Homo sapiens: one gene and its partners. The protein of the gene in region 3 purifies or fractionates together with the protein of the main gene of each other region. This does not show direct contact. Each region holds a gene or a part of one and is shown on either strand. Other genes may lie near its edges.

What was found.
Region 1: the proteins of GCFC2 (region 3) and GBP1 purify together in Homo sapiens (affinity purification with mass spectrometry; one large-scale study listed by BioGRID and IntAct). This does not show direct contact.
Region 2: the proteins of GCFC2 (region 3) and PPIL1 purify together in Homo sapiens (affinity purification with mass spectrometry; one large-scale study listed by BioGRID and IntAct). This does not show direct contact.

The regions. Positions count from the first base shown.
Region 1 is NC_000001.11:89,055,082-89,058,736, forward strand, and holds part of GBP1 (guanylate-binding protein 1), read right to left. Parts: intron 3,154-3,655; coding exon 2,911-3,153; intron 2,054-2,910; coding exon 1,773-2,053; intron 1,148-1,772; coding exon 935-1,147; intron 135-934; coding exon 32-134; intron 1-31.
Region 2 is NC_000006.12:36,864,734-36,868,388, forward strand, and holds part of PPIL1 (peptidyl-prolyl cis-trans isomerase-like 1), read right to left. Parts: intron 1-3,655. UniProt on the Homo sapiens protein: Involved in pre-mRNA splicing as component of the spliceosome. PPIases accelerate the folding of proteins. Catalyzes the cis-trans isomerization of proline imidic peptide bonds in oligopeptides. Catalyzes prolyl peptide bond isomerization in CDC40/PRP17.
Region 3 is NC_000002.12:75,686,792-75,690,446, forward strand, and holds part of GCFC2 (intron Large complex component GCFC2), read right to left. Parts: intron 3,291-3,655; coding exon 3,178-3,290; intron 2,435-3,177; coding exon 2,235-2,434; intron 1,187-2,234; coding exon 1,036-1,186; intron 1-1,035.

The DNA of each region.
Region 1 (3,655 bases), on a different chromosome or scaffold from region 3:
AGGCCATCTAATCTCTTAACTCACTCCTCACCTTCAATCTCCTTTTCTTTTTCTGTGAGAGTCTGGTCTGTCTGGAGAATTGCATCAGTCATAGACTCCTTGGATTTCAAGTATGTCTGCAGAATCTCTTCAGCCTTAGGACCCAGAGAACACAGAGTGAGAAGTAGGAAATGGCTGTAAGCAGGTGTTCCTGTTTGTCTTCCTGCCATCCTTTCTCCTCTGGGAATTCTTTCTCTTGGCCCTATTGTCCTTGGTGGTCAAATTCCCTGTCGGAGCGACAGACACATGCTCCTGGCAAGCCGATCAGAACATCCTACTTAGCAGTCATTTTTAGTAGGCTAATATAGATACTGGGAAAAGGAGAGTCTCTGTCCTGTTTAGATTAAGGGCTCTAAGTTTGGAACTGTTAATGCTGTGGTCCCATATGGGCTGAGCCTGCTGGGGAATGAAGCCATCATTGAGAAAGCAAATATCAGAGTGACTCAGATAGAGGGATGGTGGGAGGGAGAAAACTGTGGGGATGGGGGAACACTGGACAGAGAGCCAGTTCATGATGTTACTTGAAACCTTAGACCCACCTGACCTGTAAAGCCAGTTTGCAGCCTAAATCAATGAATTACATTTTTGTTTAAGCAGCCATCATTGGGTTCCTGTCTCTTGCAACAGGAAAAGCCCAGCTGTAATGATGACAATAATAACTTTGTGCTTCATCTGCTAATTGAATTTATAACTTAATAGTTAATTGACTGCACTCTCTTTGATGAGCACCTAGGACATATCTGGTATAACAGCCTGTTTGCATATGTTATTGAATAAAAGCATGAATGTTATGCAAACAAAAAAGCACATCTGTATGCAGTGAAGCTTGGTCACCTTGGTGTTTGTAGGAGGCAGGTCAGCAGCTTTCCATAATTGACAGATAAATCTTGGTTACCTGTATCCCCTTCCTCGGTTCCTCATAGTACTTTTTCTTCAGGTCTTGTAGCTTCTGAACAAAGAGACGATAGCCCCCTGGTTTCGAATAAATTCCCGCCTTCACTTCTTCTTCTAGAGGACTGAAAATGACCTGAAGTAAAGCTGAGCAACGATCTGATGATGCTTCCTGATTCTGTTTACAAAAGTCATCCCGCTTTTTTTCTAGCTGGGCCTTTAATGTAAAAATAGGAAGTAAAAAGAGTAACAGGGAAAGGATGTTAGCTTGACCTCAGAATTTTGGGAACGATTTCTGAAAATAGAAGTCAATGATGCTGGAGAAACTGACAGCCTCCTCACCAGGACCACACTCTTCCTTCTGACCCCACTTTCTGCTGAAGTCGCTTTCTTTTTGGAGGTGAGGTTCAGGGCTGAGATTGATAGCTTTATGTCAACTGTTAGAGGAAAACTCTGTTTTTGCATATTGGACTAATGATTTCATATGGAATAAATGTGGCTGAACGGAAGCCTGCTCAAGATAAGTAGGATGAAAATTTTCTTTGTGTTTGGCTAGAATATCAAATCAGTCTGAGAAGAGTGGGCAGGTAATTTTATTAGAAGCTCTGGTTGTCAGTTGTATGCATAAGTAAAGGGAAAATTATTCAGGAAAAAATGTTTTAGAACTTTGGGTCTGTAATAATACAGTTGGTCCTTCTGACTGATGTGATCACAAATCTGTTGTTTTCACCATTATGGAAGCTAGGAGGAATTACTTCCGTCAAAATAAATAATAGTTTTCTTTCCTTGTGGTACTTTAGCTTCTATGACCCTAAACCGTATACATTTGAGACAAAAATTACCGCTAACTCCTTTTGAAATAGATGGTCCACATCTTTGAAGGAACTCCTGATGAAGACTTCAATGGCCTCTCTCTCACTGTCCCTGTGCAGGTCCAGCAGCTCCTGGAGGGTTTCTGTGGGCAGCTGCACCTTCTGGCCCATCTGCTGTTCATAGTGGGCAATAGCCTTTTGCACTGCAGCTGAGTTCTCTATCTGGGCCAAGGCCAGGACTGCGTTCTCCATGCACGGCAGATCCCCACTGCTGATGGCATTGACGTAGGTCAGCACCAGGCTCTCTAGACCTGCATATGAAGAACAAATGATAATGTTTCTGGTGGTAAAGAAAGTCTCTATTCCATGTAATTCTGAGCATGTCAAATACCACCTATTTTCCTCACAGCATCAATGTCCTCAGCATCACTTGGAAGCTTGCTGGAAATAGACTCTCAGACCCTGTCCGAGATCTATTGAATTAGACTTTTGTGTTTGGTAAGATCCTCAGAAGATATGTATGCATACCAACATTTGAGAGTTCTTGTACTAGATTACATAGACTTGTGTTAATTGAATGTTTGCATCCATTTTAACCCCAACCAACATTAGGACAGGAACCATATCTATTTCATTTATATCTGTATCTTCAGTCTATTCATAGTAAGCATTTGATCAATATGTATGAAACAAATGACACTATTCCAATAAAAAAGAGTCATCCATTTAGTTTATTTTATTGCAGTATTGTTCAAAAGCGCTTTCTGTAATGCTGGGAATGTTGTATATGTGCTTTTCAGTGTGCTAGTCACTAAGTACGTGTAAATATTAGTCCTTGAAATACAGGCATGTGAATTGACTTTTAAATTTTCCCTATTTAAATTATTTACATTTATGTTTACATAGACACACTTGTCTAGGGGCTACTCTATTGCATAGTGCAGGTCCAGTTCACTAGGGCAATTTCAAGCAATAGAACTTTTTTCCTTTGGCCTTTTCCTAGACTGGAAATGTGACTAACAATATATGTTAGAAACATTGGTGCCATCTAGAATTTAACACAAATATAGCAGTAGATTGGGATTTTTCAATGCTGAAACTAGGTGGAAGTTATTCTATGCTCCTCTAGTCTTAAACAATGAGCAGAAGTACTAGGAAGGGGACTTACGAGGCCCGTTGACCTGGATGCCTCCTGAAAGAGTTTTAGTTTTGGAATTACTAAAGATGTAGGAACAGAAGTCTGCTACTTGTTGCACAAATTCGGGGTCCAGCTCTTCATCTTGTAGTTTCTCGAGCTGGGCAAGCTTCCTGCGGTGAACGGGCCGATCAAAGACAAAGCATTTTTTCTTTGGGAAGAATTTCCGGATACAGAGTCTGGGCAGGTTAAAAGTTTCATCTTTTTGACTGGTACCTAGAAAAACATTTAAAAAATTATAAAATTGCCTAATATAAGTGTTTCTGTAAAGGGCCAAATAGTAAATATTTTAGGCTCTTCAGGCTGGATGGTCTCTTTTCCAAGTATTCAACTCTGTTATTGAAGCATGACAACAGCTTTAGACAATATGTAAATGAATGGGCATAGCATTATTCCAAAAAAACCTTATTTACAAAGACAGCTGGCAGGCAGGATTTGCCATGATTTGTCTTGGGCTGTAGTTTGCCAATGCTTGGACTAGCACACGGTTCATGTTTTAGTCTATGTTCTTTAAATAAATATCCATTGTACTCCATACTCTATGGCTAAGTAGAAGATCACAAACCCTAGGCAGGGAGATAAAATTAACCTAATCACAGCATACACAAAGGTGAAAGAACAAGAAACTTGTTCTAGAACAATGACAAATGTAATTTAAAATAACATCTATTAATTTGGATATTCAGCAAGTATTAATTTCTAGGAATAGCCAGCTGAA
Region 2 (3,655 bases), on a different chromosome or scaffold from region 3:
AGAATCATCCAGCTCTAAATGTCAATAGTGCCTAGGTTGAGAAATCCTGTTCCATCCCAGCAGTACATTCTTTTTTCCATATCATCTGCCATCCCTGAGAGTATATTATGTACTTTTTCATTCTCCGTCTCTCACCAGAATGAGAGCACCGCGAGGGCTTTCTTATTCACTGTTGTATCTCCAGCTTTTAGAAGAGTGCCTGGCCTACAGAAGGAGTCTAATAGGTATTTGTTAAATGAATTAACAATAAAAAAAAAAAACCAGTCACATTTGTTTGAGCTCCCACTTTGTGTCAAGCCCATGCTAACCACTGTACCAACATCAGCTCATTTACTACTCACAACCAGCCTAGGAGGTGCACGTAACCACACTCCCGACAGGTGAGCTGGCTCAGCAGGGTAAGGCAACTCCTCTACATTTAGTAAGTATTCATGTGAAGCACAAGGCAAGCCCAAGCTCCACAGTCCTGCTCTACCCTGAACCAAACTGTCTTGCCATAGTCCACAGCTGGATGAAATTTCCTCAGATTTGTCTTATCCCAGACTCAAGAGTCCCAAATGGTCCCTGAGTCATGCTCAATCAAATCTGAACTCCTCTGTCTAGGAGTCTCCATTAACTGGCCCCAAACTGCTCCTTACTGTCCCCTAAACAGGCAGTTCCGAGATCTGTAAATTTTACAGGGGCCTTTGAATCACATTTGATGCATTTGTTCTGGGTGTGGAGAGGTGGCTGGGTGATGTCACAAGAGCCAGTCTAGAGTGGAAGATGTGACACCGGGGGTGGCGGGCTCCCTCCCTACCCCTGCATGCCTCTGTCACTCCTGCCCTGTACCCACCCTTCTTCCTAAATTCAAAATGCCCTTCCCTCTACTTCCCAAGACCCATCTCGCATATGCCTCCTTCCCATCCTAATCTCATTCCATTGTGCTTTTTCCCTTATTGTGAATTACTCCAACCTATATTATATACATAATCCACACCGTACTATCATACATTTGCATATTTATATTATCCCATTCTAGTTGTTTCTTATAATGAATAGTTTGTTTCCTGGCAGGGCAGGGAACTGCAAGGAAAAAGAAAATGCCTTGGCTTTTAATGCTTAAGTGCTTCTCCCAGGCCTTAGAATAGCACAGGATACCCAGCAGACTCTTGGCAAATACTCATCAAATGAATAAAATTAACAGAGCTTGCTGTTCAACACGTTACATTTCAGGTGTTCCTGGGGCTACCAAGAGGAGAGATGAAATCAAAGTGAGAGTGACGCACAGGATAATCAGCATATAATTAATCACAGCAGCTGGTGAGCACTGTGAGGCCAAGTGCAGAGCAGGAAGAGCTAAAGGAAGAACTTGACAGGATGTTATGTCTTACAGAGAGGACAGAAAGGTTAGTAGAAACAAATAAAAGACACTCAGAGGGCTAAGGAAAGAGCCTCTATAGTTATTATAATATGGGAAAGTTGAAGGTAGAAAAATGGTTTAAAATGAAATGAAGCAGGAAGTCAAAGGGTATTTGAATTGACAAGGCATCTGGCAAAGATGTATTACAAGAAAGCATGTGGAAAGAATGGTTCCACAGTAGTCAGACTGAGGGACAGCTGGGAATGGAAGTGGTACATCAACTTGCTGAAGAGCCCAGGATGTCATTTGCTGCCCATCTGAGATGTTTAACAAAAAACGTGTCACCTAATCAGCTAGAAAATATGAACTAGTGACCCAGGAGAGCCTAACTCCTGCTTGCCTTCCACCATAGACCTGCCAGTGGGCTGCTCAGTCATTCATTATACTTGAGGCTGGGTGCAGTTATTTGAAGATCTTTTGAGTGATTCAATTTCATTAAAATTACACCATGGAAATGTGACATTATGAAGGATCATGAACCAACTACAGAAATACAGAAAAGCTGTGGCATGAGCAACTCACACCTGAGTCACTTCCAATACTTGTACCCTAATCATGGACTCTCAGTTCACTGGTATTAAGAATTAAAATTTATTTCATAACAACATGAGGGGGAGAGAGGAAGAAGACAGGAAAGAAGTACATCGAAGTACCGACGGAACCCTTTCAGACAAAGAAAGTAGAATGAAGCAGGACTAGACTCTGCCTCCCTGTTGTGCCGAACCTCTATTGACTCCAATGGGGATGGCATCAGGTTCAATAGACCGAAGAGACCTAATGCCAGCAAATGAGACATGGGGTTTTATTGGGGACTTACATACAGGGCAGAGAGTCCAATGGTGGCGGAGAACCACAATGGCTTGCAAAAAGCATGCAGTTTATATAGCATTTCCACTTAGCACCTTCTCCCTAACAATCTCCACCTGGCAATCTTCATTCAACTCAAAACTCGGGGCCTCAACCCGTGTGCGGCCCATGTTTCACAGGACGAGCCAGGGGCTCAGATGTCCCTTTATAGACAAGGAAGGAACCTCCAGGTTGGCTACTCCTGGATTCCCTAGCTCAGAACACACATTCAGATGCGTCTGCCATACAGGGTCATTCTAAGGGTATGTTTCAGTTATTGCTATCAGGCACGTTTACCACATGCTCCCAACACCCAATAAAGTGAACATACAAAAATTAAAAATTAAAAAGTCAAAAGTTCACCAGCATCAACCAAATAAGAAAAGGGAACCAAACATGCTAAAATTGTAAAAAGAGTCAGCCAAGAGGAAAAAATAGAAAATTCTTCCATCTGTATTCCCTGAAACCAGTAACCAGGAAAGAAATGTCATGCTGAGATTCTCACAAATACCCTCCGATTCTGAACAGCCAACAGGGGAGTGGGTGAGCAGCTCTGAAAACAAAGCCCTTGAGGGCAGAAGCCCACACATATCACAGGGGCTCGGGAGTGGCAGGGCAGGCACGCAGGGCTGGCCACCTTCCAGGGTGCTGGGCCATACTTGGGGACTACCCAGAGCCTGGAGTGGTGACAGAGGGACACCACTGGCTGGTGGAGGGGGCTCTGGGACAAGACTTTAAGGGAGTCTGGGAAGATAGAACAGAGGCTAGCCCTCCCACAAGGGGCTCGCTCAGCATGAGCTGAGCTCCAGTTCTCTCCCACACCTCTTCAGGCTAGAATAGAATAGAGAGAAAGCAACCTAACATTTGAAGTGGGGAAGACAACCAGTTCCACATAAGTGGGGAGAATGACAAGGAGACTCCACTTACACTGTATCTGAGCAAGTAAAAGGTGGGGATAATGTAGGTGTTGACATCAAGCATGGATAAGATGAAAACAAATGGCATGGAAACTAGGCAAACATACCACAACCAACAGAAGGACAGAAAGGAGGAGGGGAGAAAGGAAAAGAAAACCCAGGAACTCAGCCTGGGAGAAAGTGGCTTCTCCATGGCTATCTCAAGCTATGGATGATTCAAGAGAAGTAAAAATATAATATAACAAAAGCTCAAAGACAAGATAATACACCACAGAATAAGATGAAAAGATTGCAGAGTGAAGGAAACAAATTTAGATTCAAATGGCATCAGTAATGAGCTAGTAGATAAATTAGAGCAGTAAAGAACAGAATAAAAATGACTGAAAATTGAGTAAGGCACAGAGTAAAGGTCTGAGATTATTTTAGTGAATGCAGGGAAAAAAGAAAAAAAAATCCTATCACACAATCAAAAGAAATATGATAGATATGG
Region 3 (3,655 bases):
TCAAATTTCTTTCTCAGTGACATAGTGAAACGGATCCTTATCAAGTACACAGGTAAAACAAAAGACTTCATGCTAAGGTCTGAAGCACAAGCATTAATGTTAAGTGCTCATAGCTGCTAGTGGCAAATGTGAGTGAAATGAAGCAATTTTTTTTTTTTTTGAGACGGAGTTTCACTCTTGTCACCCAGGCTGGAGTGCAATGGCACGATCTCGGCTCACCGCAACCTTCGCCTCCCAGGTTTAAGCAATTCTCCTGCCTCAGCCTCCTGAGTAGCTGGGATTACAGGTGCCTGCTACCACACCCAGCTAGTTTTTTGTATTTTTAGTAGAGACGAGGTTTCGCCATGGTGGCCAGGCTGGTCTTGAACTCCTGACCTCAGGTGATCTACCTGCCTTGGCCTCCTAAAGTTCCAGGATTACAGGCATGAACCACCACTCCCAGATGAAGCAATGGTTTTAAAGAAAAGGATAAGAAACACAATTAGAGAAGTTAAGGGGAAAAAAGGACACATGTAGTATGGATGGAAGTGTGCTAAAAAATGACTGAAGTGCCATAAAAGCAGCGGGAATGCCACAAACACTAAACTGACTTTAAATACTAAGTGACTGAAGTAAATAGAACAGAGAAGGTAAGTGACCTGAATCCAGAGATACTGTAGCACTTGGAAGTCAAAGAGGTGACAAGCAGACAGCAAAGACCAGAGAGGTGGGCAGGAAACTAAGAGTGTGGTATTTTGGTAGCCAAGTAAAGACAGTGTTTCTAGGAAGAAAGAAGGGTCAACTGTTGGAACTGCTGATGATACGTCAGATGAGGATTAGTGATCAATCTGAGTATTAGCAGTTTGGTAGCCAACCACCTGTACAAACACAAATTTTTTAACCACCTTACATTTGACAGCTGTTGATTTTTACTACATATAACATTTCCTTGAGATTAAAAACTTATGAAAAAACTTTGTGAATATAACAGAAATTAACAACCTTATATACTCTGTCAGAAAATAATTTAATTTTACCAAGGTTACGAAGCAGTACCTGTAAGTCGGGGAATAATTGTTTTGTTGATGATTGCAGACAAGACTTTTTTATCTGAACTACTTTCCTTCTTTGAATCTTCCACACTGCTATCCATAAATTCTTCTACAGATTTGAACCATGGCATCTCTTTTAAACCTGTGGATTCCAACTTACAAAGAAAATTACAAAAGTTATAAAGAAATCTTTCAACATTAGTGTATTTTTAAATAGTTATTATTTTTTTCAATAATCACCAGAGCTTTTCTAAGGATCAGAAGAGATTAATTCCCTATTTTAACACTAGACCACCAAGGCTAGGCAGGATTGCAGGACAGCATGACTGAGACATGGTGTCTAAGTAACATAAGAAGAAGCTGCATTTCATGCATTCAATCACACAACAAACACTCAACAACTACCTAGTGTGTGCCGGAGCCTTTAGACCCTACCACATGGCAAGTACTCTGCTTGGAGCAAAATACAAATTTGTTAGGCACTTGAAACAGCCATGGAATTTGTTTATAAAAAAAATTCATCCACTTCAAGCAAAGTTTATTTCTGGCCCCTTCAATTCACTAAGCATAAATATGTAATTTGTATGTGATTTAGTTAAAGGTCCTATTACACAGTAGGCAGTTGCTGAGTTCATACTTCTTTTTTTTTCTTTTAGTCAGTCAAATTCAGTGAACAGAGTTTATATTCCTTAACTTAGGATCTAAATATCTGTGCAATTTCTAGCTCCTGAACTAATACTTCTCCCTTTACACCTTTATGAAACACCTTTCCCTTTCTGATTCATCCTGTTTACCCCATAAACTCTTCAAAGGCTTGCATTCCACCTTCTCAACACAACCCTAAGCAACTCTTCCCAGTATGTCATCTCCAACTTAAGAATTCTTGAAACAAGGCTTTTATATCTACTTTCTCCAAACCCAACAGTACCTTATACTTTCTGGGAGGATTTTAAATTTAATGTACAAGAAGCTAAAAAAAAATGTGTTTGCTTTACTGATGTTAATGATGCTTAGCCTAAAAATCAAGTGACAGCCAAGAAAAGAAGAATGTAGCCGAAAGCACACATTTTCTGACTATTGTTCCAAAGCTCTAAATTTCAGCTCCGACTCTAAGGGTAAGGTATTTAATGCCTAACACAATAGTAAGGGAATTTAAGCAACTAATATAATCAGGATAATTTTTCATATGTTAAGCATAAATACCTTAAGAGGATTCCAATCAATCAACTGAACTCGTATTAGGGGATTTAAAAGCTTTGGTATGCATAAACTAATGAAAGCTTCATAATAGGAGTCAGGAAACTTTTCTCGCCATTGCTGAAATTTCAACAAAATATTCTGGATGTTACAAAAATCATCTTGCACTTCTTCAAAAACTTTCTTCTGTTTCTGTAAAATGTCACCTGTAAACAAAATAAGTCTCTTTATGCATTTTAAGTTGTGAACTTTAAGTATGCTTCCTTAAAAACACGGTCATGATGGACTGTAATCAATTGAGCTAAAATTTGTCCTTTTATATTAATATAAATTTTTATTAAATCACTTTATCAACAAAGTAATAATATCAACACTAATAGAAGTTACCATATATACCCCTGCTATACGCAGAAATACATTAATCTCATTTTACCATCGTAGCTATCTTCCATACCATATAGGTATAGTCTACTTATTTACAGACAAAACAACATCAAATTTAGGGAGGTCAAAAAATTTGTCTAAGATTACACAGAAAAAAATCTCCCTTAGAACCCAAATTTATTTAAATCCAGAGCCTAGAATTTTTCAACTATATGCATCTTCTCATCATGCTAAAAAGTTTCACCAAATTCAAATGTTTTAAGTTAAAAATGACAATATAGAAAGTATGTGTGGTAAAGAAATGAAATGAAGATGTTCATTATTAATTGGAGAACGTCTAAGAGAAAAAACTATGAAGATGTAAGAATACTCACAATGTTCCTTCCTTCATTTTACTCCATTTTTTCAGAGAAAAGAGTCTTACAGAGGAAAAATGTGTTTCATTTTTCCTGAATTTACCCAACTGTTTTATATAGCTTATGTACTTATTAAGGGCAATCCCAGCAAAGTGTTTCTCACCATTTCAAAACTCAAACCATGATATATTAGAAACTTGGTAACTGACCTTGGCTTTTTTGGAAGTCAATCATCTCTGCTGAAGGCAGTTCATCATCACTAGATGTTCCTTCCTGATGGTTACAATTCCCAGAAAGCACCCTTGCTTGTCTTCTTTTTGTCCTATATTTTGCAACAAACCAAAAATAAACAAAAAGTAAGTAGTTCTTGCTGAAAATAAATGCCTAAATTTTTTTTAACCTCTTGCTGAAAATAAGTAATTTTATCATTTATTTTAAATGGCCAGAAATATACTATCATATCAGCGCACAATTTTATTAATATTTTTGACATTTTTAGTTTCATTAGTTTGAGTTGGTGGTTCTGCATTTTTTGTTTTGTTTTGTTTTCTCTTATAAGACATTCCCATTTAGGACATTCCCATGGGCTAACCAGATTCCGAAGAGGGGGTAATTATAATTAGGACCGGTTTCTAGTTACAAGGAATTCCCAGCCTGATAAATGTCATTTTACCCATTCCTTTTAAC